4 linked regions of the Homo sapiens genome follow. The protein of the gene in region 1 purifies or fractionates together with the protein of each later gene. This does not show direct contact. Each region holds a gene or a part of one and is shown on either strand. Other genes may lie near its edges.

What was found.
Region 2: the proteins of EYA4 (region 1) and SIX2 purify together in Homo sapiens (affinity purification with mass spectrometry; 3 studies listed by BioGRID and IntAct, with this or other methods). This does not show direct contact.
Region 3: the proteins of EYA4 (region 1) and SIX1 purify together in Homo sapiens (affinity purification with mass spectrometry; 4 studies listed by BioGRID and IntAct, with this or other methods). This does not show direct contact.
Region 4: the proteins of EYA4 (region 1) and SIX4 purify together in Homo sapiens (affinity purification with mass spectrometry; 2 studies listed by BioGRID and IntAct, with this or other methods). This does not show direct contact.

What each region holds. Positions count from the first base shown.
Region 1 is NC_000006.12:133,236,797-133,244,367, forward strand, and holds the start of EYA4 (protein phosphatase EYA4), read left to right. Parts: upstream 1-4,860; 5' UTR 4,861-4,953; intron 4,954-5,422; coding exon of another isoform or gene 5,423-5,615; intron 5,616-7,571. Other genes in the region: serine/arginine repetitive matrix protein 1-like, read right to left, coding at 3,990-4,860, 5,423-5,615. UniProt on the Homo sapiens protein: Tyrosine phosphatase that specifically dephosphorylates 'Tyr-142' of histone H2AX (H2AXY142ph). 'Tyr-142' phosphorylation of histone H2AX plays a central role in DNA repair and acts as a mark that distinguishes between apoptotic and repair responses to genotoxic stress.
Region 2 is NC_000002.12:45,006,451-45,013,910, forward strand, and holds the start of SIX2 (homeobox protein SIX2), read right to left. Parts: upstream 3,003-7,460; 5' UTR 2,661-3,002; coding exon 2,101-2,660; coding exon of another isoform or gene 2,095-2,100; intron 36-2,094; coding exon 1-35. UniProt on the Homo sapiens protein: Transcription factor that plays an important role in the development of several organs, including kidney, skull and stomach.
Region 3 is NC_000014.9:60,646,466-60,654,427, reverse strand, and holds the start of SIX1 (homeobox protein SIX1), read left to right. Parts: upstream 1-4,950; 5' UTR 4,951-5,238; coding exon 5,239-5,798; intron 5,799-7,850; coding exon 7,851-7,962. UniProt on the Homo sapiens protein: Transcription factor that is involved in the regulation of cell proliferation, apoptosis and embryonic development. Plays an important role in the development of several organs, including kidney, muscle and inner ear.
Region 4 is NC_000014.9:60,721,345-60,728,636, reverse strand, and holds the start of SIX4 (homeobox protein SIX4), read left to right. Parts: upstream 1-4,285; 5' UTR 4,286-4,378; coding exon of another isoform or gene 4,379-4,381; 5' UTR 4,382-4,562; coding exon 4,563-5,425; intron 5,426-7,292. UniProt on the Homo sapiens protein: Transcriptional regulator which can act as both a transcriptional repressor and activator by binding a DNA sequence on these target genes and is involved in processes like cell differentiation, cell migration and cell survival.

The sequences.
Region 1 (7,571 bases):
AATGCAACCGAAGAAAATAAATTCGGACTCATTCTAATATGTTAATGAGACCACACCTGGAACAATGCATTCAATGTGGGATACCTCTAACAAAAATGAACATCTAGGAAATTGGAAATAGTTCAGAGACAAGCAATAAGAATGATTATGGGTTTGTAAAGACTGAACTGCCACAAGATTAAAAGGCCTTCTATTTGTTTAACGTGGCTAACATGACTTAAAAGTGAGCATGATATCTGTTTATAAACATCTGAGGGCTGAGTGTAAGCATGGAAGAAGGAGTAGAGTTGCCTAATATGCTACTAAAATGATTCAACTGGAGAGAATTTTCAAGAGAAAATCTAAAAGTAAATATAATGAAGCTGTCTCCCAGAAAATGTGCATTTCCTTTCTTTCAGAGGCCCTGCCAAGAATGAGGAAATTTAGCAGGTCCCCTGAAGATTTGATTTCTTCACTTTCACAAACTAGTAGAAACCTTTTTAAGCTTGATCTGTCTGCACAAAATTACTCAGAAAGTGTGTTTATTTATAGATTTTAGAAAACCGGCAGCATAGGACTCTAGATTCTTGGGCAATCATATTTTATCTTCATTTATTCCTGTGGTCTGTCATCAGCAGAGAGGTAGATTAAAAGACTGTTCAACCTTGTTCACATTAAGGTTGGTCTTTAAAACTCCATACTTCCAAAGCTCAAATAGTTTGGCTTAGAATTTACTAAGAAACAACTGAATTATTGTATTTTTGAAAAATTGTGTATATTTCCAGCTAGAGTTCATAGATATACCAAAAGTTGCTCAAGAGATTTACTTTGGGATTATTTCTACAAGCATCCAGTTCTCTGCATTCTTTTTCAATAAATGTAGTGTCTTATAGCATTTTTTAGCCTAAAATCTGTTCTTACTAAAGTGAGGGCCTGGTTTTTCCCTTAAGGTTGCTTTTAAATGAAATTAAAACAAAAATTATGTTTTGGATTATGAGCTCCTAGAGCGCTTTGTTTAATTTGACTTATACAAAATCTAATGCCAAGACAGTGCCATGCACGTTTGAAAAATAAACAAATAGTAAATGGTAACTGCAGAGGCATCCCATTCCAGAGGAGTTGGTTAAGGGAATTGCTAATAAGTGAATCTTATATTTCCACTGATTTACCCTATAAAGTCTTATATTTTTTATCTCCCCACTCCTCCCAAAACACATCCCTTTTCAGACTGAGTTGAACATGTACAAATATTCTGAGAGCCTGACTCATGTCATGCAGGGCCCACTGGTGTTTTTGAATCACTTCAAGAATCTGGCAGCAGGTCTCTGACTTCAATTTCCCCCATGTGTCTTTCTAGGCCCTTTGCGTTTCTCCCACTGTTCTACTTTCCCTCTCTTCTTCATTGTCTGTACTGTATTGCACTACTGGGCTAATAGATGCTAGGGAAGGGTAATGAGTAACCGGTACAATATTTCAGGAAAGTGATTTGCTTTTTAATTGTGCATTTATGAATTGTTTGCATTTTACCACAAATAAGATAGTAAGTAAAACAATAAATAATACATGAATTTTAAAAAGACGCCTCAACTTCAGAGACTTCAAGTATATTTTAGACAAGAAAAGCAATAATTAAATAAGCACAGAATTTAAAAAGTAATACCTCAAAGTAAATTGGACACAACATTTTGTTCCGGTTATGAAAAGGGGAGGCTTGAAAATATCTCTTGGTGAGCCTGAGGGACATATGGAATGTAATTCTTTAAACCAATGTTTCTCAAACTGTATGTGAGATAATTTTAGGTGGTACATGAGAAATAACTTTTATTTCTACAATATAGGTTCCTTTGCAAGATCATCTTCTATTCATGGCGGGTTTTATTAGTTTTCCATTTATGGTGACTATAAAAAATGTCCTTTATCAGATAAACTTATTTAATAAAAATAGATTATTTAAAGATACATATTAAGTCAATAATATAGGCGATATGGCTATAATTATAAAAGTGATATTCAATGTAAATGCTGGAAATAAGGCCTCATTTAAGCAAACAATACATTTTTGCCTTTATAACCCTAAAATTCTGTTTCCTATGTTAAACTTATTTCAAATGTGTACTGAAAATTGACGTTTTATCTGACACCTAGTGGTGTCCATGTTAATATATGTATATTTAAGACAACTATTAGAAGGTAGTAATATGAAGTCAAATAACTAATATATTATCCTGGATTTTAAAAATAATTTCTGTACATGTATTCTTATCTAGATGTACAAAAAACTATGCAGGAGCAAAGTGACCTTGAAAGCAAGGTCAGTGTAACTGAAAAATCTGACTTTAGAAGGGTACAAAGAAACATGCTAAGAAAACCCACCCTATATTTATGTTAACAATATGCTAAAGTATGAATTTTTATTTTATTCAAATCATACATCTCCCACCTTTATTTGTAGGTGAAACTAGCACATAATGTTTTATGCCAAAATGAAATTCAAAATGTTGTTGCCTTTTGAGGACAGTATTAAATTCATCATTGTACTTAATCCTTACATGATATTTGCTATAGCCACAGAACATTCTTAGACACTATGATTCACAAAACATTTAAATTGCATATTTGGCTTGTAATATATTACATATTTAAAAGAATTACTATTTTTCTGAATACCATTAATACTAATAATAGCATCACAGTGACTAAGAGTGGACTTAAATAAAGGCTGGCTTGAAACTCAGGTCTGCCATTTATTAGCAAGCTTCTAAAAATTCTGAGCCCTTAGTTTTCTCACATGTGAAATGGAGAAAATAAATCTGCAAAATTAATTAAATCTGTCCATTCATATTTTTCTCTCCAGTGTATATTAACTGGCATTCCTCGTTAGGCCAGAATGTGCTCTCAACCATGCTCCAAATCCGCTTTGTGCCAACCCCACTGCCAGAACCCTTTCTACCTTGAGAACCAGAAAAGGAAACATTATGCCTGGCAATGCCTACACCCTCCAAAATAAATCTGCAGGAAAGAACACCCAGTAAGTGATGAGAGCAGCAACGACTGCCTTTATCATTTTAAATTTACAACACCACCTTTTCTAGAGCCTCTTAAGCATTGTAGATAATTCCCCACTCATTAAAAAATAAATTGTAACCATAAGTATTCAGGGTTGATACTGCTTTTGAATTAGACAGTGCTCATATCAGTTGCATAAGACCAACCTAAAGTAGAGGATGAAATCTTTTTTCTGAACCTTTTTCAGAACGTAACTTAGTGAATATATTAAAACTAAACTTTCTTTGAATGGGAGTAATTTCTACGGATTAATCTGTAATCTCTTAGACCACACCTAAGGTAATGTAGAGGTTGTTGTATCATAGGCTTTGTGATTAGAGACCACTGGATTTGTCTTTGGAAAAGTCACTCATGATTCTTTGGGCTTTGGTTTCCTCATCTTTTATACCGGCTTAATAATGACCACCGTAGAGTTGTCATGGAAGTTAAATGAACTCATGTACCATAAGTGACCAATACAATGATTGACACTCAGTGATTTATCAATAAATTAAAACATTTATTATCAATATGACAGAGAAGGTGCCGCTAAAATAGACAATAGGTTTTTGGAAGAGGTGATTAAATGGATGCAAAATTTATGGATTGTTTATTCCGTCTACCTTTGCTGTGTCCCCTGGTTGTGGCATACACACGTGTGGGTATAAAATCGTAAATCCTATGTAGTCGCGTAGTGCATGCGCAGAAGGCTTAGACACGAAATGTCATTTCAGCAATGTGCCTAGAGAAGCTCTGACGCCGCCTTGGAAGTAAGTCGTTGCTGCCTGACCTTTGGGCGTCTGGGACGGATGCCTATACCTGCACCCAGCAGCACTGGAAGGGGCCCAGGCCCTTCGCAGCACAGCCTATCCCCAGACCGCTTAGTCCTTCATAACATATATCTCCACGGAAAAGGGTATTTCCTCCCGTCAGAAAAAGCGCCCCAGTCTGGTCTGGGTTGGTTTTTATTTCACGTTGTTGCAAGTAGGCGAAGTCCCTTCTGTCTCCTCCCTTGGGGTAAGTGGAAAGGAGTCCGGCAGGGGGCCCGCAGTGGCCTGCACAGGGGAACTGGGTAGCGAGAGAGTTCCAGGCAATTCCGGGGGCTGCCCCACAGAAGCAGGTGGGGATCGACAGTGGCTCTCCGGCCCAGGGAGGAGAGCGCGGTCGCGGGTCCCTCCCCTCAGCCTGGAGGCTGCAGCCGCTCGAGTCGGCCCGGGTGGGGGCGGGGTGGGGGCGGCGCGGAGGGCACGGAGATTACGGCGGCGCCACCCGGGACATCCAGGGCCCCGAGGCCCTGGGCGGTCCCCACGCGAGATCGCAAACCATGACAATAGGCAGTCACCCGAGGTCAAATAAAAACGGAGTGGGTCCCCCGCGCGCCGCCGCCCCCCGCGTCCCTGGCGGCCTCCCCCGAGGCCCCCGGCGGCCTCACGAGCCCGCAGTAGCCGGTGGCGACGTCGCCCCCGCCCCACCTCCCTGCGCAAGTGCGAGGCTGCCGGCAGCGCGGCGCACGCTCCGGCCGTTCCCGGCTTCCGCGCAAAACTTCCATCCTGTCCACGTGAAGTTGTCGCTGCCTTAGAGAGGGGGAAAGAGCTGCGGGAAAAGCCGGGGAGTGACGACTGCGGCGGCTGGGCGCGCTCTCTCATTTTCTTTTCTTCTCCTTTCCCCCCTGTCGCAGTCCGGAGTTTTGGCTCCTCTCCTTTCCTCCTCCCCCTCGGAGCCGGCTTCTCCCTCCGCCCCGCTTCTCCCCCGCTTGTGTACGCTATTTGTTGTGGGGTGGCCGAAGGGGATGTCCTGTTTTCACCAGAGGCACAGCGCGAAGGGGAAACTTCGACACTGGAAGGAACGAGAATAAATACTTAATTACGGACGCACTGAACCGCGGCTGGGACAGACACTTCGGGAACCCGAGGCGGACCGGGCGACGAGGTGAGTGACCCCTTCTTCCAACCCCCGCCCCAGGGCTCCCGGGGGAGCCTGAGTTGAGAGAACCCCCAAACTTTCCGGGAAAGTGCGCGAGGCTCCGCCGGGGACGCCGAGCGCTGGGTACTGAGGACGCGCAGCTGGACGGTGCGTGGGCGCCTGCGTCCCCGGGGGGCGCTTGGAGGCCGGGTGCCCCACGCCTGAGGGCCCGGGCCGCTCGGACCGCAGCGGTGCTCTCTGCCCTAGAAGACGTCCCCAAGCCCCAAGGGTCCCTTCCGAGCCTGCCTGTCCCTTCCGGGGTCGGCGCGGAGCCTGCGCGTAACGGAGTTCATCCAGCAGTCCAGCGCGCGGCTTCTACCTGCACCCCGCCTCCACCTGGCAGAGGCGCGAGCATCGGGGTCTCCCCCACATCTTTCTTATGACGTGTATTACTTTCTGATGACCCCCTAGATGGTCCAGGCGCGAGGATGCTGACCCAGAGTCCTTCGGAGGGTCACAGGCGCCTGGGCTTTCCCGGTGCCGGGTGCGTGTGTACTTTAAAGGCTCGCGTTCTAATCTCCAGGCACTGATCGGGCTTTTCAACTGCGGCGATCCCACTTTAATAGTTTTTATGTGGCGTGGACTGAATGTCTCCTGCAGTTTGCCAGGGTCGGTGAAATTAGAGGCGCCTTGTCAGAGCAGTCGCGTTCATTGGCTCGAGTAGCGGGTGCCATGGAAGGCTTATAACTTCTCCAAAGGAAGGGACCTGGCTGGGTAGAGCAGGTTTTTCTCTCCTTCCAAGCCTGCTGGGTCTGGGGAGGCAGTGGAACTTGAAATGGCTCGGATTTTTAGCGTGGTGAAGCGAGGTTTGGAAGTAGACGTGTGTGTGCTTGTTTTATTCTGCGCCGCACAGCAACCCGAACTTTCGTTTGGTAGCACTTGAAAGAGTTTTCTCCCTTTGTTTGCGAGATTCTGAACAGCTCGGAGCGATTAGGGAATTTGCGGACCGAGTCCGGTGGCAGAGCTGGGGCGAAAGCAGAGAGCGCAATTTAATTTTTGTCATCTCTTCCCTGCTTGGGAGGATAGTGTTTCCCTTCACCACCACCCCTCTTTCTCCTTCCTATGAAGACAACGGATTTGCGCCTGGGGTGAGAGTGTGTGCGGGAGAGTGGTGTGGAGACTGTCCTCTCTCACCGCGTCTCCTGCGCCTCTCCCCGCCATCCCGAGCGGGCCTAGAGAGTCATTCATGAATCTTAACCTGAGGGCAGGGGAGGAAGGTGCAGGTCCCTCTGCCCTTTCTGCCAAGGTGCAGAATAGCGCCCGGGCGTGTGTTTTGGTTCCAGAGCAGTTCCACGTGGAGCAACTTCGTGTGTGTGTGTGTGTGTGTGTGTGTGTGTTGTGTACTTGATCTGTGAGGAGGTAACAGGACTCTGGTGTTCAAACCCAGTGGGCCGTTGGCCATTAGTTTGCTTTCCTGGCTGTCATTACAGACACTTCCAAAATCTGATACCTAAGAGAACCAACAGGTTAGGTTTCACATTAAGGGCTCATACTTAACAGTTTTCTTTCTCCCTTACCCCTTTTGGCTTGGCACCCTGGGATCAACGTAATTGTTGGAGCGAAATACACCTCCTGGAATATGGCATTTTGTTCCTCTTCTCATCTGTGGCCACTTTGTGAACCCTCGGGTGTTTGTCAGTTTCAGTGCGGGCTCCTGCGGGATTTAGGTGGGAGTCTTAGGAGCGTTTAACAACCGCGGGCTCCCCATCAGCAGCTTCTGAAGTTTCACTTACACGTAGGTGACTGACAGGATTGAAAGTTGACGATGGTTTTTTTGTTTGTTGCGTTGTTTTTGTTTTTAAAACCTTAGGGAAGGGATTGTACTTGAATTCCTTTCCCGGGTACGGTTTGGTTTTAAGCAGAATCAGTGCCTTTTTTTTTTTTTTTGTCTTTTAAAATATTATTGGCAAGCTTAAACCTGAAGAACCAAAAACTAGAGGGGGTGGGGAGAGAATCCCCCCAAAAAATATTTGATACGTGATACGGAGCGTTTTAGGAGACTGCATTCAAAGACATTTGTGTATTTTTAAAAATAACATTATCCCAAGAAACAAAAAGCAGTAGTAACAAGAGACAGATTGTTTTGTGTGGAGCAAGACTGCCAGAATCTGATTTTTATGGCAACAATATCGAAAGCAGACATAACTACACCCACATTTATTGTTATAAACCGTAAAAATAGTTTGTTCCACCTGATTAAAAGTTGTAAGTCATTCAAAGTTAAACCCGTATTTAGGAATGACTGTACAAGAATGTTAAAACCTTTGACAGCTACAGCTTTGAAAGCAACATAATTAGATTTGTTGAAAATGTCTCCTTTCTCTGATTATTAGTGATATGTACTTGTCTTTCATAATAAGTAAAGGTCTACAATCAATATGGTTTTCAAAAGCCTGTTTTCCTTTGTAAATTTCCTGAAAATAGTATGTTTCAATATTTAAAGACCATTGTAACTACCGGTTGGTTCACAATTATAACTAAAATAAGATTTACTCAGTTGTTTTCTTTTTATTAGTATTTGTTGAATATTTGAAATTGAATTTCTCATTTCCAAAATAAAACGTCTCACATATATGTATGTACTC
Region 2 (7,460 bases), on another chromosome or scaffold:
TGTGGCTGTTAGAATTGGAGTTCTCGTTGTTCTCCCTGCAAGTGCGGGAGCAAAGCAGCGGGGTCAGCAGGGACATCGAGACCACCCAGCGCCATCTCAGTCACAGTCAGAGCCAGCCACCAGCCTCGGGAGACAGATCCCGGGCTTGTGGCCTGCGGGTGTTTTCGGTTTCTACCATTTCCTCGACCTGGTCTGGGTTCTCCTTTCTGCCCGTTCTCTCCATCTCTCAACACCCAATTTCTCTTGCCCCTCTGCCCTTATCGTCCCCACCTCTCATGCTGTCAATCTCATCAATATCTTTTCTATATTTCCTCTTTCCCCCCTTCCCCAATATTTCTTTTCAGGAACAGAGGTGCAGGAGAACAGGGTTCCCTGAAGTTGTGGGGTGAGCCGGGAGGAAGAGACGATGCCTGGATTTTCAGATCACTCTAGGCTCCACAAGCCAGGTTTGCTGGGTAGATGTGGGGCTAGCAGGTTAAGGAACCCTGGATCCCAGGTCAAGGGATTTAGGGCCTCTCACAAGACTTCATTTCCCTTTGCTTTTTCTGCCCGAGGGAGACCCCTGGCTGGGAGACAGGCTCCTGGGGCTAAGCGTCCTTTCCCTGTAGCTCCAAACTGGGCAGCCCTGTGAGGGCTCTCCTTGCTGGGCCTAGAGACAAGGGTCCAAGGATGGAGGACTCCCTTTCCGTGGTGGTACAGTGAAAACGTCAGCTCGGAGACCAGAAGCTTGGGGGATAAAGGGCAGCCCCTGGGAGAAGGCCGAGGCTTTTCCATTGTAACCAGCCACTCCGGGAATCTGCAGCTCTCATCTGGGGCCTGGTCTGAGAACCCAGGTTTTCAGGAGTCTGATCACATGCCGGTTTGGGTGGAGGGGGACCCAGCAGAGAGAACCCACCTCCTTCTATGCCTTTGACTGACAGCTCCTCCCCAGATTTGGATATTTAAAATCCTGGGTAGGATCTCTTGTCACCAGCTTCGGGAGGGTTTTTCTTTCTGCTTTCCTGGGAGGGAGCTTCCCACAGGGCTGGCAGCTGAGACCTCACCACTGTGGAAACTCCAACCTCAGGGTCTCAGATACCTGGAAGTATCTGAGCCTGCAGCACTCCCCCTAAGATGTTTCTGGTTCAGCACCCTCACCTCTGACCCTGATCATTCAAACTCAGGGTGGAACACACCCCATATCACCAACCCCAGGTGTCCTGTTTTGCTCTTACCCCGGGCTGGATTCTGTTCCCATAATAAGTTTCTCTCCAGGTTTGAGGTCCTGAGGGGTTATAGGGCAGGCAGTGGCAAGGGCCTAATGATCAACCTTTAGGCTGGTTCAGGAAGTCCTGGTTTACCTGAGGACATCCAACTCCCAGCCCCTCTGTGCCTCTCAGCTCACCGCAGACATTCCGACCTACCCATCAGAGGTAGGGCCTAAGGAGAGAGGCATCAAGGGCCTGGAGTGCCAGGGAAGGGCGGCTATCTCTAGCAAGGCAGAAAACAGGGCATGCGTCTCTTCTCTCCCAGAACTGACACTTCCTCCCTTTCACCTCTGGATCCTTTCTAAGGAGATAAAGGACCCGCTCTCAACTCCATGTGACAACGAAAATTCATGGCCTGGCTTTTCCCCATCCAGGTCATTCTAGGGAAGTTCCAGCCCCAGTCCCGACCCCATCACACTTTGGCCTGGAGCTAAGGCTGGGGGGAAATGCCGGGAAGCACCACCAGCAAGAAATCTGCAAATCCCCTTTCATCTGGGCTCAAACCCCTCTGTCCTGAGGATGACCAGACCTACTGTGCCTGCCTCACAGGGGATACAGGCCCACAGTTCTGCGCTGCCCCGAAGCTCTCTGCTTCTCCACCCTTTTCCTCTAGCGACCGAGTAGTTAGTTGACAACTTCCTGAATTGCTCTGCCCGCTTTAGACAAATCCCTGCTCGCCGGGTCTCCGGCATAGAAAGGCCTAAGCATCGTCCAAGTCAGGCCGGGCTGCCGCTGGGCTGTGGCCGGGCCTGGGGGCCCAGTTTAGGCCTCTCCGGGGGACCGGCAGAAGCCCTGCGAACCCCTCCCTTGGGCCCCGGGGAGCTGGCGCCGAAGAAGGTCTACTTACTCGTACCTTTCCTTGGCCTCGGCCGCCCGGTCGCGCTGCCGCCGGTTCTTGAACCAGTTGCTGACCTGTGTGGTGGTGAGGCCCGTGGCCTCCGCCAGCTCACGCTTCTCGCGGGGTGAAGGGTAGGGGTTGTGCGCGTACCACTCGCGCAGCACGCTGCGACTCTTTTCCTTGAAGCAGTAGCTGGTCTCCTCGCCGTCCCAGATGGAGCGCGGCAGCGGGAATTTGCGGCGCACGCGGTATTTGCCCACGGCGCCCAGGGGTCGGCCGCGCAGCTTCTCCGCCTCGATGTAGTGTGCCTTGAGCCACAGCTGCTGCAGCTTGGCGTGGTTGTGCGGCGAGAACTGGTGGCTCTCCAGGATCTTGTAGAGCTCGCGGAAGTTGCCGCGGTGGAAGGCCACCACGGCCTTGGCCTTGAGCACGCTTTCATTCTTGTGAAGGTGCTCGCAGGCGGGCAGCGACCACAGGAAGCGGCCCAGCCGCTCGATGTTGCCGCCCTGCTGCAGCACCTCGCACACGCACGCCACTTGCTCCTGCGTGAAGCCGAAGGTGGGCAGCATGGACATGGTGCCGGCTGCGTCCCCGCCCGCCCGCGCGCGCCCTCACCGGGCCGCGCGGTCCCGCATGGGAGCTTCCTCGCCGGGCCGTCCGGGCCGAGACGCGGGCGGGGCTGGCCCCCTGGCCCGGCACTGGCCCCCGGTGAGCCCCGAGTCACTGCCGTACGTCCCCGCGCCGGCCGCGGGTCCCACGAAGCTCCGAACCCCAACGGCCCGCGCGCCTGGCCCAAGCCCTCGCCCAAGCCCGGGGGCCGCCCGGGGCGCCGCTCCGCATGCTCCGCGCCCGCCCGCCGTTCCCTCGCTCGCTTCTCACTCGTTCTCCCTCCCGTCTAGCTGGCTCTCAGCTTTCTTAATAATATTATTCTAAGCGGGCATGAGGCGCGGCGGCCCGCGCCCTGATTGGTCCGGTTATCTGACCCGGGGCCTGCCAGCGCCAGACAATAGTCGGAGTCAAATTATTCGCCATGGAGACGCTGTCAGTCACTGGTAACCCGAGCCTCGGCGGGCCGGGCGGCTCCCCCCGGCCGGCTCCGCTGACAGATCGCCCCGCTCCGCGCAGAACTGAGGGCGGCTCTACTGGAGCCTGGGGCGCTCTGAGAGCCTGGGAGGCGGAGAGGGGCCGGGTTGGGGCCGGCGGCGGCGGAGATTGACGGGGCGGATGCCCAAAGAGGGAGGGAGGAGGAGGACAGGAGAGCGGGGGGAGCGGGCGAAGACGAAAAGGGGTGGATCGAGGTGGGGAGAGAAGAGGAGAGAAGGGAAGGCGGAGACCGTTTAAGGGGGTGTCCAGGAGGAAGGGGAGGGAGAGGGGTGGAAGGAGACTCCAGGGGAAGAAAGTTTGGGCAGCTTTGGCTAGGAGAGGGCTCTGCAGCCTCGCCCAGACCCTACAGGGTTCCCCTTCTCCCCAGGTCACCGCGTCCCTCCCAGGCTCTCTGTTCACCGGGCACATTCTACCCCGGCGCAGGCCAGTGGGATGGGAGAGTTTGGACGTGCTCGGGTGCCGCCCAAAGACTTGGCTTTTTCTGCTGACAGCGCCCCACCCCCATCCTAGAAACTCTGGACTCAGCGGTCCTCGAGGGAAAAGGGGAGGGAGTAGACGAAAGAAATGGGGAAGATTTGGCAGTGGCCGCAGGCGGACGCCGGAGAATCGACTTCCCGGAGGATCCCGCCTTTCCTCCCTCTCCTAGCCCCGCCGGCTGCCTGGCGGCCTGTACCGCCCCAACTCTGCGCTCTCTGCTCCTCGCCGGGCGGGGACTCAGACTTAACCCCACGGGTCCCACAGCCCGAGGAGCGCCAGGCAGTTCCGTGTGGCCTCTATGGAAGCTGACTCCGGCCGGCAGCTGCGACGCAGAACCCCGGACGGCGCAGACCCGCAGTCTGCCCACCGGGGCGGGGGAGAGGGGCGACGGCAGGGACTCTAGGACGGTGGTGGGGCTTCCCCGGTGGGTGGTCGGGGAGGAGAACGGAGGCAAGATTCCCAGTCCTCCCGCTTCGCCGCTGGGGATCGGCTCGGCTCCTGGCCACTCCAGCCTGGGAACCGGCTCGCTGAGCTCCGGGATGAGGTGCTTTAAAAGGGGGTCCTGTTTTTTGCTTCTTTGTCAGGGTGCCAATGGAAACATGTGGTGCTGGTCCTGTGGGAGAAGGGCTCGCACAAAGGTGGGAGAACTGAGGATGGGTGTGTTCTTGCTCTACGTTTTGAAAAGCCCGGGGCTTAGCTCCTTCCCGGACATGTCCTTTCCACTTCCTTCAGTTTCCTCCTCTTCCCCCCTCAGCTGCTGCAGGCCAGGAGCTCCTAGGGCCATACTCAGTGCCTGACCCAAGCCAGCACAAATCCTGGGCTCTGCCCTCAGCCAGTCTAGGGCTATGGAACCCGAGTCTAGGCCAGTTCCTTCTTTCCCACCCTTTTATGCTTTCTATGGAGTTTGTGCTAGGAGCGCGGAATGGGAGTCTAGAGCCCTGGGTTCAACTTTTGGTTTTGCTTGGTGTCTATGGTAAGGCATATATTTATGCCTTTGTGTTTATTTCCTTCTCTGCAAGATTTCAAAAATTTTCCCTGTGCTGCAGCATTCCGGAAGTCCTTTGGGAGTGTTGTAGGCATGAGAGAATGGAACCCTGGGACTCCTCTTAAGACTTTAGCTTCCAGGGGCCTACCCTGGCATGTTGAATGAGGCCACAGGGCTGACAAAGTAGGTCCCAAGCCAGTGCGGGTGCAGAAAGGGGAAGCTTTCTGCAGAAATCCAGGTGGCATCTTTAGAGTCTGTATCTGTGGGCTGGGAGGAGGTCTGCTGTGTCCAGGCCACCCTATCCAGAGTCCTATGCACTGCTGCACAGGGGCTGCCCCAGAGTTGGATCTAAGGACCCTGGGAGACATGGAGAAGAATTTACCGCAGACTGTGATGAGGTTCAAAGCCCAATTTGCTGACCTCCAACAAAAGTGCAACGTACTCTTTTCAGCACGTCTCCTTCAGCTACGTGGTTAAAAGGATTCACCTGGCTGGCTGGTCCCAGCCCTGGCAATGGCCATCTTACATCTTAGCGTGCTTAGGCTGGGGCTGCAGAGGAGCACCCTGGTCTGGTGTGGGTGAGTGAGACCAGGCAGTCACTTCCTGGTATGAGACCCTGGGCCAGTCCCCAGTCTGCTCTTCATTCTCTTCCACTATTAGATTGAAGCCTGGGTAATCTCTCAAGTTCCTGCTGGTTCTGGGATGGGGTGGGTCTAAGAACACTAACCCTGAAAAAGCATACAATCTCTGCAACCTCAGCCACAGCCTTCACCATGAATGTGCCACTCCTCTGACCCATGAAGCTTTAAGATTAAACTTCCCCCAGGACTGGGTCCCGCCTATGTTCAGTGAAAGCAGATTTTTCTGGAGCTTCAGACTCACTGTTCCTCCAAGTGCTGCCCTCTTTGCAGCCCCTGGGCCCTAAGCCCATGAATCAGACCTGCCAGGAGCCTCCAGGCAACACTAAGCAGCACAGAGAGAACAGAACAGACATGGGGCCTGCCACCGTGGATAACATACTGTGTGCCATATGAAAAGTCATTACAGAGGAAGCACTGAAAACCTGGAGCACCGTTACCCGATGTATGGGTGTGTGTCAATATGCCCCTCATTCTCCTCCTCCCCCATGTATGTAGAAAACTGGTTCCAGCACATCTGGGCCAGAACCTCTTGGTAGCAGCAGTAGCTGGGTTACATGCTGAATGAGGGTCTCCTCACACTCCTTAGCCCCTTCCCTGCCTGGCCCATTCCCCGATAGTCTTTGCCACAGAACAGAATACTTGGGAGGTGTCTGGATGAGGATTTAATAGCCAGCCTGAGCCAATGACAATCTCAGCCCCCTAGTTGCAGTGCCCAGAGCAATTGCTGAGAGGCCTACGGGGTGCCGAAACTTTTGGTTCTACCTCACTCCAATCTCCGGAATCCCTGTCCTCCTTCCTGTCCAAAGACCCATTCCCAAGAGGCTTGTGCTTGCTTTTTATCCAGCAAAAACGGGAGAAACTCCATGGCTAGGGGGAGAAACCTTTTCGGAACCATGGAAATTTGAGCTTTACTGAAACACCTCCTTTCACCTCCAAGCTTCCCTGAAGTCCCTGGGAGGATGAGACTTTCTGGAAAGCAGCAGCAGGGGTGGGTGGGTGCTCCCCAGTGATCTCAGGCTGATGGAATAGCTTTGTCCCAGACGAATTGTCAGGGACAGTTTGGGGTCTTTGTGCCTGGAGTTGGGCAGGAAGCGCCCAGGACAGAGCCAGAAGGCACCTACTGTCCGGCGCCCATTGGGCAGCCCAGGGCTGGCACACCGCGCCCAGCGGGTGCACTTCTGGGCAAAGGAAGAAGTCAGCCCACTGGCCTCCCGAGGGCTTCCCTGGTTTTGGGATGGGGCCGTTTCGCAAAGAATAGGGTAATCTAGGAAGAAGGAGCTGCTCTCTGGCTATTTCCAAGGCCAGCGGATGGGTAGGCCTTTGTTCTGGGCAAATCAGAAACCTTGTTTGTGACAGAGGGAAAAAGAGAAGGGGGCGGGTGCTCGGTGCCAAGTCAGGGGACCAGAGCTTTTTTTTTTCGGTTTGTTTTTGATCTTTATTTTTCCAGCCTATAAAGGCGGCAGAAATCCCCTGGGTAGACTCTGGCCCTGGCGCCGCCCGCCTCGGGCGCTCCATGCTGCTCCGCACCTCGGGCTCTGGGATGCTCCGGCCTGGATGGAGGCTCTCCGCCCTCTCCCAGCTCCGAGCGCCCCAGCCGACATGGGCCTGGCGCGTTCCCCAGACAGTCCCGGAGTTCTCTGGGCCTGGGCGACGTGTTTCGTTGAAAGCGGGCAGGTGGTGCCGGGCGGGGCTGCGCTGAGGCTCCGGTGCCTCCCCACCTGCCCCTCGTACCTGCCGGTCTGTCGGGTCCCGGCGGACGCAACCAGCTACTCGCAAACCCTGCACCAGCGGTTTTCCGTGTTGTCCTAAGAGGGGCAGGTCAGGGCGAGGCCAGTCGGCTCACACGAATTCTCTGTGTCGGAGAACACGCCCCGCGACGTTCCGAGCCCGGGCAAGGTTGAGAGGCGCTGGGCTCCGGGCGGTCGCACTCTTGGAACCGCGCGAACCGCGGCGTCGCCCGCGCCGCACGTGGCTGGGGCAGTCACAGGCCCCGAGAGCTGGAGCAACGGGGTCACCGCCACCCCTCTGCCCTCCAGGCCTTCACCTTGAGACCCACGCGGCAGCCTGGAGGGCCCACAAGAGCAAACGGTTTAGAGGCCGCGGGCTCACGAGGGATCTTGTTCAAACGAAAAGAACGAGCACAGGGGCTCGGGGCCAGCCTGGAGGCC
Region 3 (7,962 bases), on another chromosome or scaffold:
CTTTCACCTCCCAAAAGGAAATTCTTTTTAGCTTAGACAGATGTGGTATTCAGGATGTACATAAGTTGAGAAAAAAAAGTTGATTGGAAATTCAATGGAAGATAGCGGTTTTGGAGAGTTTCATTTCATAAACCTGCCCTAAGGAGACATTTTAAAAAACAGGGAATGGGGGGTGGGGCGCAGAGTCCCTTTAATTCTTAAGAATTGTTTCTTGTGACACCTTGGCTCCACTTTCCAGAGAGGTAGTTGGCATCTGATGTTGAGTAGGGTCTTCTAGCTCAAACCTGGCGATTGGTCAGAGCTTTCTCAGAGGGCAATTTGTTAACCCTTTTCTCCCCTAGGTGGCCAATACACCTTTGCCCGCCCTCCGTGCAGGCTACACCATCTATTGCCCGCCCTCCACTCCCTGTGAAAGGTTCTCGCCAAGTAAGGCCTACTACACCGCCCAGACTTGAGGGTCTACTTTCAAGAGAACTTACCTGCGCTGCCTCAGTGGGTGACATAAGCACACTCTGTGAAACCTCACAGCGCCCAGTCCCGGAGAGAAAAAAACGAGCGCCCAGAGCCGAGGGGAAGGGAGAGGGAGGGAAGGAGGAAGAAAGAGGAGGATGAGAAGAGGAAGAGGAAAAACAATGAGAAAGAAGAGAGAGAGATAAGGAGAGAGAATGAGAAACAGGTTCACATACAGACAGAATGAACGAGCGTCCTCTTTCAGATGGAGAAAAGAGTTAGAGACACACTCTGGGAAAGACCTGCCACGGGGACACACGTAGAGGGAGAGAGAGAATAACTCTTCCAAAGACACACACCCCAGCTCTGTTCCCCTCCAGTCTGAGCTCCCTCCCAGTGCTTGACCCTCAGTCGGTCCATCAGTCTGTGTGTGTTTCTCTCTTTCTCCCTTCCCTGACCTCGAGACAATACGGAGATGGTATTTTCGGGAGCCGCGCGGGGCGGCAGGGTTTTCAGCGGCGAGCCAGGCTCACAGCTGGCTCTGTTTGTCCAGGTGTGGGCGGTGGAGGTGGTGGGGGGCGTCAGTCGCCCTGAATCTTGGGCCAGCGCAGCGTTTTCGCACCAAAGAAGTAGGAGGCTCTGCTCTCGAGCTTCCCGCTTCCAGGAGAAAACTTCCTCCCTCCATACATACATAAATACACTTGGGGAAGAGACAAATCTTCATTGTTCAGAAATAAGCTGAGGAGGCCCGCCTGCTCCCCTCAGCCAGGCAGAGCGAGGCAGGGAGGGAGGCGGGGGCCGCGCGGATCCGGTGTCACGTTGCAGATTCCCACTAAAGATAACGAAACGTGATCTATTTTTCAGAACAGCAAGTGGATGGGAAAGAACCTTGACAACACAAAACTCATTTACTAATGGACTGGTTTTGGGTTTCTCTTCTCTGAGTCCGCAAATCTCTCTGCCTGAGCCCCAGGCCTATTCAGACCTCGCGGGGAGCGGCGTCCCCCAGGAGCAGGTGGGCTGCTGCTCCGGCGCCACGCCGGCCATCGGAGCCGGAGTTCCCAAGGGTCGAGGGCACCCGGAGTTTCCGACTAAGCAGAGGAAAAAGAATTTTGGCACTTCAGCCGGATTTGGGGAGTCTCCGCACTGCCCCAGAGCGATGACACGAATTTATTGAAGAAACACCTCTCTATGCCCTCCCTTTCCAAATATTTGTAGGTAGAGTAGAATCCTCACCGTCGTTCTGGATGGTGAAAGAATTCCAAGAAAGCGGCCCGGGAGCCCCTAACTATCTTGCTACAAGCCAGAAGGGAAACAAGTGGGTCCCAGCTAGGGGTGTTTGCATCAAGGCCTGTCAACCCAGCCGAGAAACCCTAGCAACAGCTAATGCTGTCCCACTGAATGCTTTTTCATCGACTAAAGCGCACGCGGCCGTTACCTGCACAGAGGAGGCACTGGAGAGCCGAAACCTGGCATCGGGCGCTCCTTGCCAGCGGTGTTCCCTCCCGAGCCGCGCTGCAGCGAGGGCAGCAGCCGGCTGGCTAGAGTTGCTCATTTCCTTTAAATCTCCAACGCATCTCTGCTTTTCGTGCGATTTGCATTGACAGCAAAGGTTTTATGTTACGAGAACAACTCAAACCTTTCTGTGTGCGATTTAAAATGGATCATTTAGTTTAGGTGGTTTGTAAATTCATGTCATTTTACCTCTTTCAGCGGTTTTCAGTGAAAGGTTCCATTTTGGGAAACCTTATATATCCGAGCCAATAATTAACATTTATAACAATTGGTTCCCCTAACCGAGGGATCGAAATAGCAGGTAGACTCCTTGGTATAAAGCGCATAGCACTTTCCCTTTCCAGTTACGCGATCTATTGGATTAAGCGGGAGGAAAAATGTTGGCCGGCCCAGTCACGGCCTCCGAGGAAGAGCACCTCTTTTCTGCCCGGGTTCCCGCAATCACACCTTCTACACGTCGTCTTCCCAGATGACGGCAATGTAGTACGTCCTGGTTCCTTTTGAAGACAGATAAAAAGAAATGGGCAGGTAGGTCTGGAGGAAGCCGGGAAAAAAAGGTGGTCCTATTTGTGTCTAATTGCCATCTCTGCTGTCATCCTCTGTAAATTTATACCTGCCCTTATTTGTGCAGGCTATGCCTCATTTCCTTATACAAAATTGTTAATTACAAAGCACACCCCATACTCAACATACTGTTTGTCTTTTAAGAGACGTGGTTGTGCTTAAAGACCCTCCCCCCATTGTAATTGTGCGCACTTGCTCCAGACTTTAGGGTATTAACTGATTTTTAGAGCCGGGTTTAAGCCTCCGTTCCGGTCCTCACACAGCTGCCATGTCAATAAGGACTGTTTCAAGCAGAGGCATTCCTTCTGGGAGGGCACTGCAGCTCCTTAAGACTTCATGTGAAACATCATAAGCACTAAAATAAGACAGTGAGGGGAAATTACCAGACATGGCTCTGGGTTTAGCAGTGCCAGGCTTCCAGTTTAGAAAGTCATTGGGCATACTATATGGCAGAGGCTCTTTTGAAAGCATGCACACCTATTAAATGCATTTTTTTAAAAAAAAAGCCTAAGGTAATGAAATATCAGCATCTGCTTCCAAGATCTAATTGCATGGAATAAGCAAGAGTTTCAAGGATGCAGAAAACATTATGTTCAGCAGAGAAGCAGCTTCCTGTCTACTTGGAATCTCCCATGTGGCAGCCCTGAGGTGGGAACCCTTTATGAGTTTAGAATGTATGTTGCAGGGTGCACTGTACTGGGTGCATCATTTTAAAACCATATTAATAATAAAAGAGGAAACCAAGACATGCTTCTCCTTCTCCCACTTGCATCTCAATATGCAAAAGGTTCTGTAGTGCTGGGCTCTTTGGCTAAAGGAATCAAAACATATTTGAAGAAGACAAGCCAGTTTAAGGAGCCTACAGTTTGTTCTTCACCACTCACTAAGAGGGCACATTGAAATCAAAAGCATTTTTGAAGTGTACTTAGAATTCTGTTTTGAACTTATCTAATCAGAGATAAGTATAGTCATAAAGTCACTCTCCTTCCACCATTTGGCTTCCCTTATCTCCACGCATTGTTCTTATCTCCTGCTAGTCTCAGCTACTGACAATAGATTATCTTTGTTTAGAGAGGCTAATTGTTTTCAAAATCCTTTTAATTATTGCTTTGGAACTAGGTGTGCAAATGAGGCTTAAGATAATTACAACTTCACTTGTTTGTGCAGTTTTACTAAGCATTCTCCACACATAAACAAAACAGCAGATGATGGGACTTAAATTGCAGTGCATCTCTCATTCCCTGGCAGCAAAATAGGCCAGCATTGCAACACACACACACACACACATACACACACACACACACACACACACACCTCTTTATTTAATCTTCTTGGAGCCGCTGTCGTTCTCGCTTTGAGGGCAGTGTCCCTCTCAGAGCAGGGTAAGGATTATATTACAACCGGACGGTTATTGGAGCCGGGCACAGTTTTATTTAATTTACACCACATCCAGCGCCTTTCGTACGAGGTTCCCAAAGCATTTTTGCTAATAGCAAGTAAAGCCTCTCGGCATTCCTCAGTAGCAGAGGTGGCACTGCAAAACACAACCGCACAGATGGGGAAATTGAGTCCAGAAGCTTCAGGAACCTGCTGGTTTCAATCGCAGAACATTAAGATACCAAATCACAAATGAACGCTCGGAGTCTCTAGGTGCTCAGCAAGTATGCTCTAAACAGCTCTCTGCCTGGTCTCAAATCATGGAGGTCTTTTGTGAACGAGGGAAACGCTGTCCGACTGGGAGTACTTGTGCCCTTTGGAGGGTGGTGTGCAGCAGTGGGGGGAGGACAGTGGTAGTTGGTGGGGGGAGGGAGGAGGAAATAGGGTTGGACTCCTCGAGCTGAAGCCAACCCGAAGCCACTCTTCCAGAGGCTGCATGCGCGGACCCTGGTCTGCTCTTGAATTATTTATCGCGTTCCATAAGCTATTCATCAATCCATTATTTATTCATTCCAACATTAAAGTAATTAAATATGAGCTCACCGGGAGAGGGCAAGTCTGCAAGGGATGAGGACAAGAGTACGGAGGGAGAGGGGAGGAATTAAGGTTTGGAGTCATTGATTTGTGCGGAGTTGTGCGCGACTCCCCTTAGGTGATACTGGCGACGGGTCCCGCGTTGCAGGGTCCTGACGCGCTCACCCACTCCCTACCTCCCCACACCTCCGCAGCGCAGCTCCCTCAGACCCCAACTGGCTTCCCACCTTTCCTCTTCCTTCTCCTCCCACCACTCCCTACCCGCGCAGCCCCGGCAACACCCCCAACCCCCAGCTCCGCAGCCTCGCCCTCCCCGCTCTGGGCGGTGCGGCCTCTCTGCCCAGCCGGGCGGCGCGCTGGCTGGCCAGCCCCGGATAGGCGCCGCCGGCAGCCAATCAGCGTGCCGGGGACGCTGCGCGCTTTAAGGCCGCTGCGGGGAGAACAGAAACCAAGTTCCCCGGCAACTAGCAGCATCCACCGGGCGGGAGGTCGGAGGCAGCAAGGCCTTAAAGGCTACTGAGTGCGCCGGCCGTTCCGTGTCCAGAACCTCCCCTACTCCTCCGCCTTCTCTTCCTTGGCCGCCCACCGCCAAGTTCCGACTCCGGTTTTCGCCTTTGCAAAGCCTAAGGAGGAGGTTAGGAACAGCCGCGCCCCCCTCCCTGCGGCCGCCGCCCCCTGCCTCTCGGCTCTGCTCCCTGCCGCGTGCGCCTGGGCCGTGCGCCCCGGCAGGCCCCAGCCATGTCGATGCTGCCGTCGTTTGGCTTTACGCAGGAGCAAGTGGCGTGCGTGTGCGAGGTTCTGCAGCAAGGCGGAAACCTGGAGCGCCTGGGCAGGTTCCTGTGGTCACTGCCCGCCTGCGACCACCTGCACAAGAACGAGAGCGTACTCAAGGCCAAGGCGGTGGTCGCCTTCCACCGCGGCAACTTCCGTGAGCTCTACAAGATCCTGGAGAGCCACCAGTTCTCGCCTCACAACCACCCCAAACTGCAGCAACTGTGGCTGAAGGCGCATTACGTGGAGGCCGAGAAGCTGCGCGGCCGACCCCTGGGCGCCGTGGGCAAATATCGGGTGCGCCGAAAATTTCCACTGCCGCGCACCATCTGGGACGGCGAGGAGACCAGCTACTGCTTCAAGGAGAAGTCGAGGGGTGTCCTGCGGGAGTGGTACGCGCACAATCCCTACCCATCGCCGCGTGAGAAGCGGGAGCTGGCCGAGGCCACCGGCCTCACCACCACCCAGGTCAGCAACTGGTTTAAGAACCGGAGGCAAAGAGACCGGGCCGCGGAGGCCAAGGAAAGGTACGCGGCGTGCTTCCCGCGACTCGGGCGACCCTAGGAAGCCGTCCTTTCTCCTCCGCCCCCTCCCGCCCCCGCAGGCACCAGCCACCAAGTCCTCCCCGCCGGCCGGAGCCCGTCCACGGGGCGGCGCGCAGGCCCTCCGCGGCGCTGCAGCGAAAGTTCATGAACTCTGAGGTTCCTTGCTAAGGATGGGGCCTCATTTGCTTTGAGCACCCGCGCGTGGGTTTCTCTGGGATGTGAGTGTCGGGAAATATTGGCGCTAGATTTGGTCTTTATGCCTCCCTGGCTGGCCGCGGCTATGAGTGGTGGGTGGAGAGTGAGTTTCTAAATCAACGGGCAGTGAAATGTTGATTGGTGTCGCAAGGAAAGGGGTTTGGTGGGAGCTGAGGTTCGCGAACCTCTCTCCTCTTGCTCCCCAGAGGGGTGAAGCTGGCCTGAGACATTGGCTCTGCCCCCACTCCCGCCTGGTTCTCCACAGCTCTCTCTTGATAGTCTTTTGGTTTAGAGGTAGCCTGCTTCATTTCTCACTAGCTGGACAAATGGAGGAGACTTTTAAAGATACAACAAAAAGAGAGCTTTGGGGAGAGTTGGCGCTGCATTTACTCCCCGGCGCCCCAAATTAAGAAAGGGTTGATCCTCGCCGTGCTCGCTCGCGCGTGGCCCGGCACTGCAGCCCGTCGGTCTGGCTGACCGCGCCGCATGCCCAGACGAGGAAAGGGTCTCCAGTCGCAGCCCTCTCTCGCACTGGAGCTCACAAGGCAATATTTTAAAAATTGGTCTCTACTTTCCCCCACCTCGGGGCAACACCTTCGGCCACCTGGGCAGGCTCCTTCTGTTCTCTATAGCGTTTCGGACAGAGATTCAGAAGGACGGTGGGGAGGTGGCTGTGGCGGGGAGAGCGCTCCGCGAAGCCAAAGAGTTTGGGGGAAAACCTGAGCGCAGGGGCCGGTTAGGTTTTCCTTTGTTCGCTTCCAAGACTAGGGGCCGAAGATCTTGCTCCCTTTCTTGTCTTGGTGGAAAACCAGAGCCAGGATAAATTCTGCTGAAATGGGCTTGTCGGGAGACAGAGACTGTGAGGATAAGGGGAAAGAAAGGAGACAGACAGGCGCTAGGAGTCGGGAGGACTGACGAGCACTCGGAAGGCGGAAGCGGCGAGGGAAGCGAAATCCTGAAGTTAACCGGTACCGAGTGCCCGGACTGACGCCCCAGCGCGCCGCGCCCGCTGGCAGCCTGTGCGGGGCGGCGAAGTTTCCCCTGCCCAGAAAGGATGGGTTGGGGTGGGTGTTGGTAGGAAGTTTGAGAGGGGGACACGAGGGGCTGAAGAGTTAGCAAGTAACACAGGAACAGGGATTGTATGGTTGCAGTTAGCCTTTAGTTACAAAACGGCCGTCCTATAAGCCAGGCCCGAGGGCCGACTCCAGATGAAATCAGAGACTGGCTGCGCTCCCTGTGTTTACTCAGGTCACTGGGCCGCGCTGGGCACCACTTCCCATGACCTGTTCTGTGTCTGCAAAACCACCAACTCTGGGCTGGGGCAGGAAAACGGGATGTTTAATTGTCTCCTCATATGCGAACAAGGCAATGGACTTGATTCACCCCAAACATTTGTGCATTGGACTCTGTCCTCTATCATTTCTTTATCACCAATATCTATTTATTGAAAGATTTTCAGTTACATTTAAATATGTTGCTAGTTTATATGTATTTAAATGTAACTGCTTGAACAAAATTTAAAACATATATTTTGTATGTTTCAAATAAATCCTGCTAATCTATCACTTTCTGAAATCTGGAAGAGAAAAGGACCTGGCTCCTAACAGGAGGCTCTGTCCGTAGCTCTCCATTTCTCCAGGTTCCTCTGACTCCTCACCTCCCCCATTACCCTTGGGGATGGGTGGAAGGGTAGAGCTCCTCCATTTGGGTTGGTGACAGATTGCACAATGGCCCTTTCCTCCTTCCAGCTCCCCTCCCTCCATCTCACACTTTTTTTTTAACCTACTTTTTTTTTTTTTTTTTTTTTTTAACCATATGGTGTTGTCCTCTATTTCTTAGGGAGAACACCGAAAACAATAACTCCTCCTCCAACAAGCAGAACCAACTCTCTCCTCTGGAAGGGGGCAAGCCGCTCATGTCCAGCTCAGAAGAGGAATTCTCACCTCCCCAA
Region 4 (7,292 bases), on another chromosome or scaffold:
GGATTACAGGTGTGAGCCACCACACCCAGCCCAAACTCACTGATGAATGAAGAAATCTCCATTCTTGATGGCAAAACCATCAAATATATTCAAGCAAAGTGTAAAATTTTGTGCTGCACCTGATTTTCTTCAATATACTAAAATGGCCAAAGATTTTTACCTACACTCATCACTGTCTTCAAGCTGGAAGGAAAAGACACAGAACAAGCAGCTTGGTTTTTTGCTCTTCACTCTCACACAATCCCAGCCTCAATCCTGTTTTCCCAAATCACAACACAGATTGATTTTTATTTTTATTTTAGATTCAGGGGGTACACGTGTAGGTTTCTTACATGGATATATTGCACGATGTTGAGGTTTAAGCTTCTATTGAACCCTTCAACCAAATAGTGAACATAGTACTCAACAGGTAGTTTTTCAACCCTTGATCCCCTTCGTCCCTCCCACCCCTTTTGGAGTCCCCAGTGTCTGTTGTTCCCATTTTTATGTCCACATGTACCCAATGTTTAGCTTCTACTTTTTTTTCCCCCCTATCATCCAGGCAGCAGCCTCAAACTCATGGACACAAGCAATCCTTCCACTTCAGTCTGCCAGGTAGCTGTAACTACAGACGCTCACCACCATGCCCAGCTATTTTTTTTTTATTTTTTGTAGAGACAGGGTCTCATTATGTTGCCCAGGCTGTTCACAAACTCCTAGCCTCAAGCTATCCTCCCAGATTGGCCTCCCAAAGCACTGGGATTACAGGTATGAGCCACTGCACCCAGCCTAGCTCCCACTTATAAATAACATGCAGTATTTGGTTTTCTGTTTTGGATTAATTCACTTAAGACAACAGCTTCCAGCAGCAACCATGTTACTACAAAGGACATGATTTCATTCTTTTTTATAGCTGTGTAGTATTCCATGAGCAACACAGTTTTAGACAGCATATCAATACAACAGACTCAATGTTCACAGCATGGCACACATAGGAAGTAGAAGCAAGTATTCATCAATTTTACAACACATTTGGCAAAACCAGTGCTCTGGGATAAACTCTACACACCTTCAGGTCTAGTATTCCATTCCAATGTAACTGACCATGTTTGAGTCTACTTTGAATTGCTGGCAGAATGAGCTCTGAGTGTCAACTGGCTAAAGGAACCTGGATCTTGGTGTGGATTTCACAGCTGGTCCTACTGGAGGTATGGAATAGCAATGTAGCTAGCTACAGGCTACAGATGTCATAAAAAGCCACTGTTGCTTCTATATAATCTGTTGAACTTGATGCTCTAGAGGCAAATATACAGAAGACATGCAGAAGTGGTTTTCCAAGTCAATGCACTATATTTGATTGATAATAATTCTGAAGCAGACTCCTGTGACCTGGTTTGGGATGGCTCCAAACATAGCCAAAGGAATTTTCACTAGGTATATACAACTAAAAAGTCTCCTACTTTGCAATATCAGGAAGAAGATAACAAACATTTACCAAGGATTAATTACTCACCAGGTGCTTTCTGGCACATCTTATCTCATTTAATCCTCACAACAACTTAGTCGACTTTTTATAGTCAAGTAGCTAATAAATGGAAGAGCTAGGATTAAACCTGTGTCTAGCTATCTGATCCTCAAATCCACATCCTTTCCACTAAACCACACCATATCCTGTCTACTTTGTTCTGAGAAATGTGCTTTAAAATTTCAAGGAATTAAATGCAACATGGTCTCCTGGATTGGATCATAGGACAGAAAACAGACATTAATGAAAAAAAAAACTGGTGAAATCCAAATAAAGTCTAGAGGTTAGTTAATAGAAATGCGCCAATGTTAATTTGTTTAGATAAATATAGCATTATCATGTAAGATGTTAAAATTAAAGGGAACTAGGTGAAAGGTAAGTGGAAACTCTACTATTTTGGTAACTTTTCTGTAAATGAAAAGCATTCCAAATAAAAAATATATTTTTAAAAAAATTTGGCCAGGTGTGGTGGCTCATGCCTCTAATCCCAGCACTCTGGGAGACTGAGGTGGGCGGATCACTTGAGGTCAGGAATTTAAGACCAGCCTGGCCAACATGGTGAAACCCCATCTCTACTAAAAATACAAAAATTAGCTGGGTGTGGTTGGCAGGTGCCTGTAATCCCAGCTACTCGGGAGGCTGATGCAGGAGAATCACTTGAAACCAGGAGGGGCAGGTTGCAGTGAGCTGAGATCATGCCACTGCACTTCAGCCTGGGCATCAGAGAGAGACCCTGTCTCAAACAAAAACAAACAAGCAAACAAAAATTCAAGGAAGTTCTGAATCTCAGTTATTGTCCTGAAGCTTGGTACCTAACTGGATGTTTCCAGTGGAGTAGAAACACATGGTCTTGGCCGGGCGCGGTGGCTCACGCCTGTAATCCCAGCACTTTGGGAGATCGAGGCGGGCGGATCACGAGGTCAGGAGATCGAGACCATCCTGGCTAACACGATGAAACCCCATCTCTACTAAAAATATAAAAAATTAGTCGGGCATGGTGGCACGCGCCTGTAGTGCCAGCTACTCAGGAGACTGAGGCAGGAGAATCGCTTGAACCCGGGAGGCAGAGGTTGCAGTGAGCCAAGATCACGCCACTGCACTCCAGCCCGGGCAACAGAGTGAGACTCCATCTCAAAAAATAAATAAATAAATAAATAAATAAATAAGCAAATAAATAATATGGCCTTTTCTGTTGTTATAAATTTTAAATCTACCAGCGATGTCAACACATTAGGGTAATGCAAAAACAAGTTAAATCCTACATCAAATGACATCTTGATTGACCAGCAATAAAATAAAGCCTGTCTACAAAAAAAAAGAAAATCTCACCAAGTTTATCATGACGGCAGGTGACCTAGACAGCTGCTTTGTAATATGCTGAAGTAGGCAGCTATGAGTAGCTGGGAAGCATACACAATACAAGGCCACCCTGAAGCAAAGGTTAGGATGATGTCATTAAAATGTTGAATTTTGAGAGGCCGAGGCGGACGGATCACGAGGTCAGGAGATCGAGACCATCCTGGCTAACGTGGTGAAACCCCGTCTCTACTAAAAAATACAAAAAAAAAAAAAAAAAAAAAATTAGCTGGGCGTGGTGGCGGGCGCCTGTAGTCCCAGCTACTCGGGAGGCTGAGGCAGGAGAATGGCGTGAACCCAGGAGGCGGAGCTTGCAGTGAGCCGAGATCACACCACTGCACTCCAGCCTGGGCGACAGAGCGAGACTCCATCTCGGGGGGAAAAAAAGTTGAATTTTGAGAAAGAGCAGCAGCAGGCAAACCCAACTGACCTACAGTAATCAAAGAAGCAGAAATGGATCATCCCTTTTGGAATTAAGATCTTGTGCAAATTACAAAGGAAAGAGACACAACTGCAAACAACAAAAGACTCTACCCCCACTTCAGCATCAAACCAGAGGGCAATCTGTCTATGCTGTGGAAAAGGGCTTCTGATCCTGCACTGATCTGGATGACACCCGCACATTCAGTGTTTCTAGCCTATCATCGTTAAAAAAGAAATACTCATATACTTACATTAAAAAGTTCATGTAGAAAACTTAAATTTCCATATTTAAAGCTTAGATCTCTTCCACACGACTCATCCAGGATAAACTTATGGTTTAATATTCTACATGTTTAATTATACCATGTTCAACTCAGTTGGGTTGCCAGCCCTCCACGTGGCTTAAGGTTAAGTACATTTTTTGAAGGCTTCTTGTTTTTGTCTTCTCAGTGTGCTATTTATGCTGCTAATTATAAGGTTTTCAAGCATTTTTCCCTCTTTGGAATTTTAATTTACTGTAAATGCTTGCCCCTTAGAACATTTCCTAGTGTCATTTTATTTTTGACCGTTTTGAATACAAAATCCTTGATAAAGACATCCAAAAAGAGGGAGAATGGGGAACAGGGACATACTGGGGGGCTTCTGAATTGTCCTCTGAAGTTTTGTCATCTAGATGCTGAGGGTGGTCTCTTTGTTAAAAATTTAACCATCCAGACCTTAAGGCCACACAATTAATATTCCCTCTGGAATTGTAGGGCCTCTGTTTGAAAGAGTTGTCCAGTTTTCAGGCCACATTAGGTAATTTCCCGCCCAGGAGCGTGGCTTGGAAAGAATGTCGGTGTTTTCCTTCAGGTATAGGTGCCTGGGGGTCAGGAGGGGAGGGAAAGGCGAGGGGTGGAGTGGGAGGCGGGTGATCGACAGGGATAGAAACTGTGTCTCCTCCTCCCTCTGAATGCGAAATAGCCAATGAGGTGGCTAGGCCGGGCCGGCCCGGCCGCCACTGCCATATAGTATGCAGCAACCGGAGGAGTCACGTTGGGGGAACGGCAGAAAGCAGCTATCCGTTTACACTACTTTGCTCTAACAGCTATCTTAATGGTGACTGCGTGGCCGGGGGGAAACCTGATCGGCCAGATACAGCCGAAACCAGGAGGGAGGGAGTGGGCTTTCCGGAGGGGGAGAGGAGGGAGGGAGACGAAGGAGGAGGAGTAAGAGAGGAGGAAAGAAAGAGGAAAAGAGTGCGAGGGAGTGAGGGAGGGAGGAAAATAAACAACAAAAAATGTCCTCTTCCTCCCCCACCGGGCAGATCGCAAGTGCGGCGGACATCAAGCAAGAGAATGGGATGGAAAGCGCCTCGGAAGGGCAGGAGGCGCACCGAGAAGTGGCGGGGGGCGCGGCGGTAGGGCTGAGCCCCCCGGCTCCAGCCCCTTTTCCCCTGGAGCCGGGGGACGCCGCGACCGCTGCCGCCAGGGTGAGCGGAGAGGAAGGGGCAGTGGCGGCGGCGGCGGCCGGAGCGGCGGCGGATCAGGTACAACTCCACTCGGAACTTCTGGGCAGGCACCACCACGCCGCCGCCGCCGCCGCGCAGACCCCGCTGGCCTTCTCGCCCGACCACGTCGCCTGCGTGTGCGAGGCACTGCAGCAGGGGGGCAACCTGGACCGCCTGGCCCGGTTCCTGTGGTCCCTGCCCCAGAGCGACCTGCTACGTGGCAACGAGAGCCTGCTGAAGGCGCGGGCGCTCGTGGCCTTCCACCAGGGCATCTACCCCGAGCTCTACAGCATCCTCGAGAGCCACAGCTTCGAGTCGGCCAACCACCCGCTGCTGCAGCAGCTCTGGTACAAGGCGCGCTACACCGAGGCCGAGCGAGCCCGCGGCCGGCCGCTGGGAGCCGTAGACAAGTACCGGCTGCGCAGGAAATTCCCCCTGCCCCGCACCATCTGGGACGGCGAGGAGACGGTGTATTGTTTCAAGGAGAAGTCGCGCAACGCGCTCAAGGAGCTCTACAAGCAGAATCGCTACCCTTCGCCCGCCGAGAAGCGGCACCTGGCCAAGATCACCGGCCTCTCCCTCACCCAGGTCAGCAACTGGTTCAAGAACCGCCGGCAGCGCGACAGGAACCCCTCCGAGACCCAGTCCAAAAGGTGAGCGCCAACTTTCCTCCTCCTCCCCCTTCCTCTCCCCCACCCCCTTCCCGGCTTTCTTTTCCTCCAAGTGCTCGCAAACATGGCGCTTACCTTCCCCACCAGCCTGGTCCGGCTGCCCACCTCTCCCCGCCCCCTACCTCGCTCCCCGGCCGGCAGAGGTAGGGGGCGGCGGAGGCGGGGGGCGGGGGAACCTCCCTCCTTACCCTCCCCCTCTCCCCCCAGAAGTTTCTGGTCGCCCGCCTAGGTCTCAGTCCCCGCCCCCACCTCGGCTGGTCACTGCTGCCCAGCTTCCCACCCCCATCCCGCTGGCTTTGAAGTTGCCACCCTCTCCCCGTTTCTGGAGGGGCTAACGAAGCAAATGTGGACACCGGCACCGTAGCTCTCCCTGCCGCCCGAGGCCCGCAGAGACTGCCGGCGCCGGCCGGGGTCTGCACCTCCGCGAGGTCACACCGGGCCTGGCGCGCGCGCACGCTCCCGGATCCCCAGGGTTCAGCCGCCCCCCGGGCCTGCGCTGGAGGTCGCGGTGGCTGCTCTGGTGAAGGGAAGAGAGTGTTGTGGGACTGGCGGCGCAGAAGGGGTCTCGGAACGTCGAGGTTTCATATGACAGAGTTAATCATTCACCCTGCCCCTATGGTTCCCTTAGCGGCCGCGGCAACGTGGGGTGCTGGTGCAGCTCGGCTCTGTCATGTTTTGAAACCTGATTCTGAACTCCTTAGGATCGGGTTTCAGCGCAGCCGGGGTAGCAGGGCTGAAGGGCTGCTTCCTCCCTCGGCCCCCGAACGCTGCTTGGCTCCCTCCTGGTACGGTAGTTATGGGTGGGGGGCAGGCCGGCTTACGGCGGGCGGCAGCAAAGGAGTGGGGGCGCTCCCACCCCACTGGGTTTGAGCTTTTTGCCTGGCAGACTGCTTTCCCCCTCTGGTAAAAAAAATACCGGATTTTCCACCTCTTTTGTGCGTCCTCCCGAGTCAGACACTTGGTGTGTGCGTCTGTGTGTTTTGTTGGACGAAACAAAGTAAGGAGAAGGTCGCCTAAAGACCTGGTGTCTCCAGCCCCGCGGGGATAGGAGAGAAAGAATCCAAAAGCAGCTCGAAGGTTCTTCTCGGGGAAGCAAACTGGGAGCCGGGGATCCAGCCCGCCTGCGCCAGGTGAAGGTGATCACCAGCGCATTCCAGAGCCGGTCTCAGCCCGCCCTTGCCGCTTCTGGGCCCCTGTGGGGGTCCGACGGCTCGGGCTCCGGCGTTCCTCGCCCAAGGCTGGGAGGGAGGCTTGGTGCCCTATCCGGCCCTCGCGGTAACCAAAACAAAAGGTGCACCGGGATGTGCGTGCGCCTTCCGCAGATATGCGGAGAGGTCCAGAGAAGGCGCTTTGGTTACGCCGAGCCACCTGCCCTGCGCCCACTAGAGGCCGCGGATCCCGCGCTCGGAAACCAACGGAATCCGCAGGGCCGGGGCAGAGGGTGGCAAGGGGGCACCGCGAGCAGGCCAGCTGCTCCGCCGCCTCCGCTCGCGAGCCGGGCACGCTCCCTGGGACTCCCCCACGCTCCACTGCTGGCTTCTTCGTCCCCCCCGCCCCACCCCATAAACTCCACACCCACCCCGCCGCCGGCCCAGTTGCCTGGTTTAGGCCCCTCTCCGGATCTACCTCCCACCCGCACCCCCGGTGAGTCACCCTCGCAGACGGCGACGGCGGCTCAGCCTCAGCTTGTAAATCAAAGCGCTTTCTGCGCTCCTGGCCCCGCAGCCCAAAGCCCGGGTAATCCCCTCCCCTCGGCATGAAAGCGAACCGACCGCGGGGCACTGCGGGGATGTCGGATCCTCTGCTGGGCCAAGTCCTGCTGCGCTTCCAAAACGCCTCTGTTCTGCTC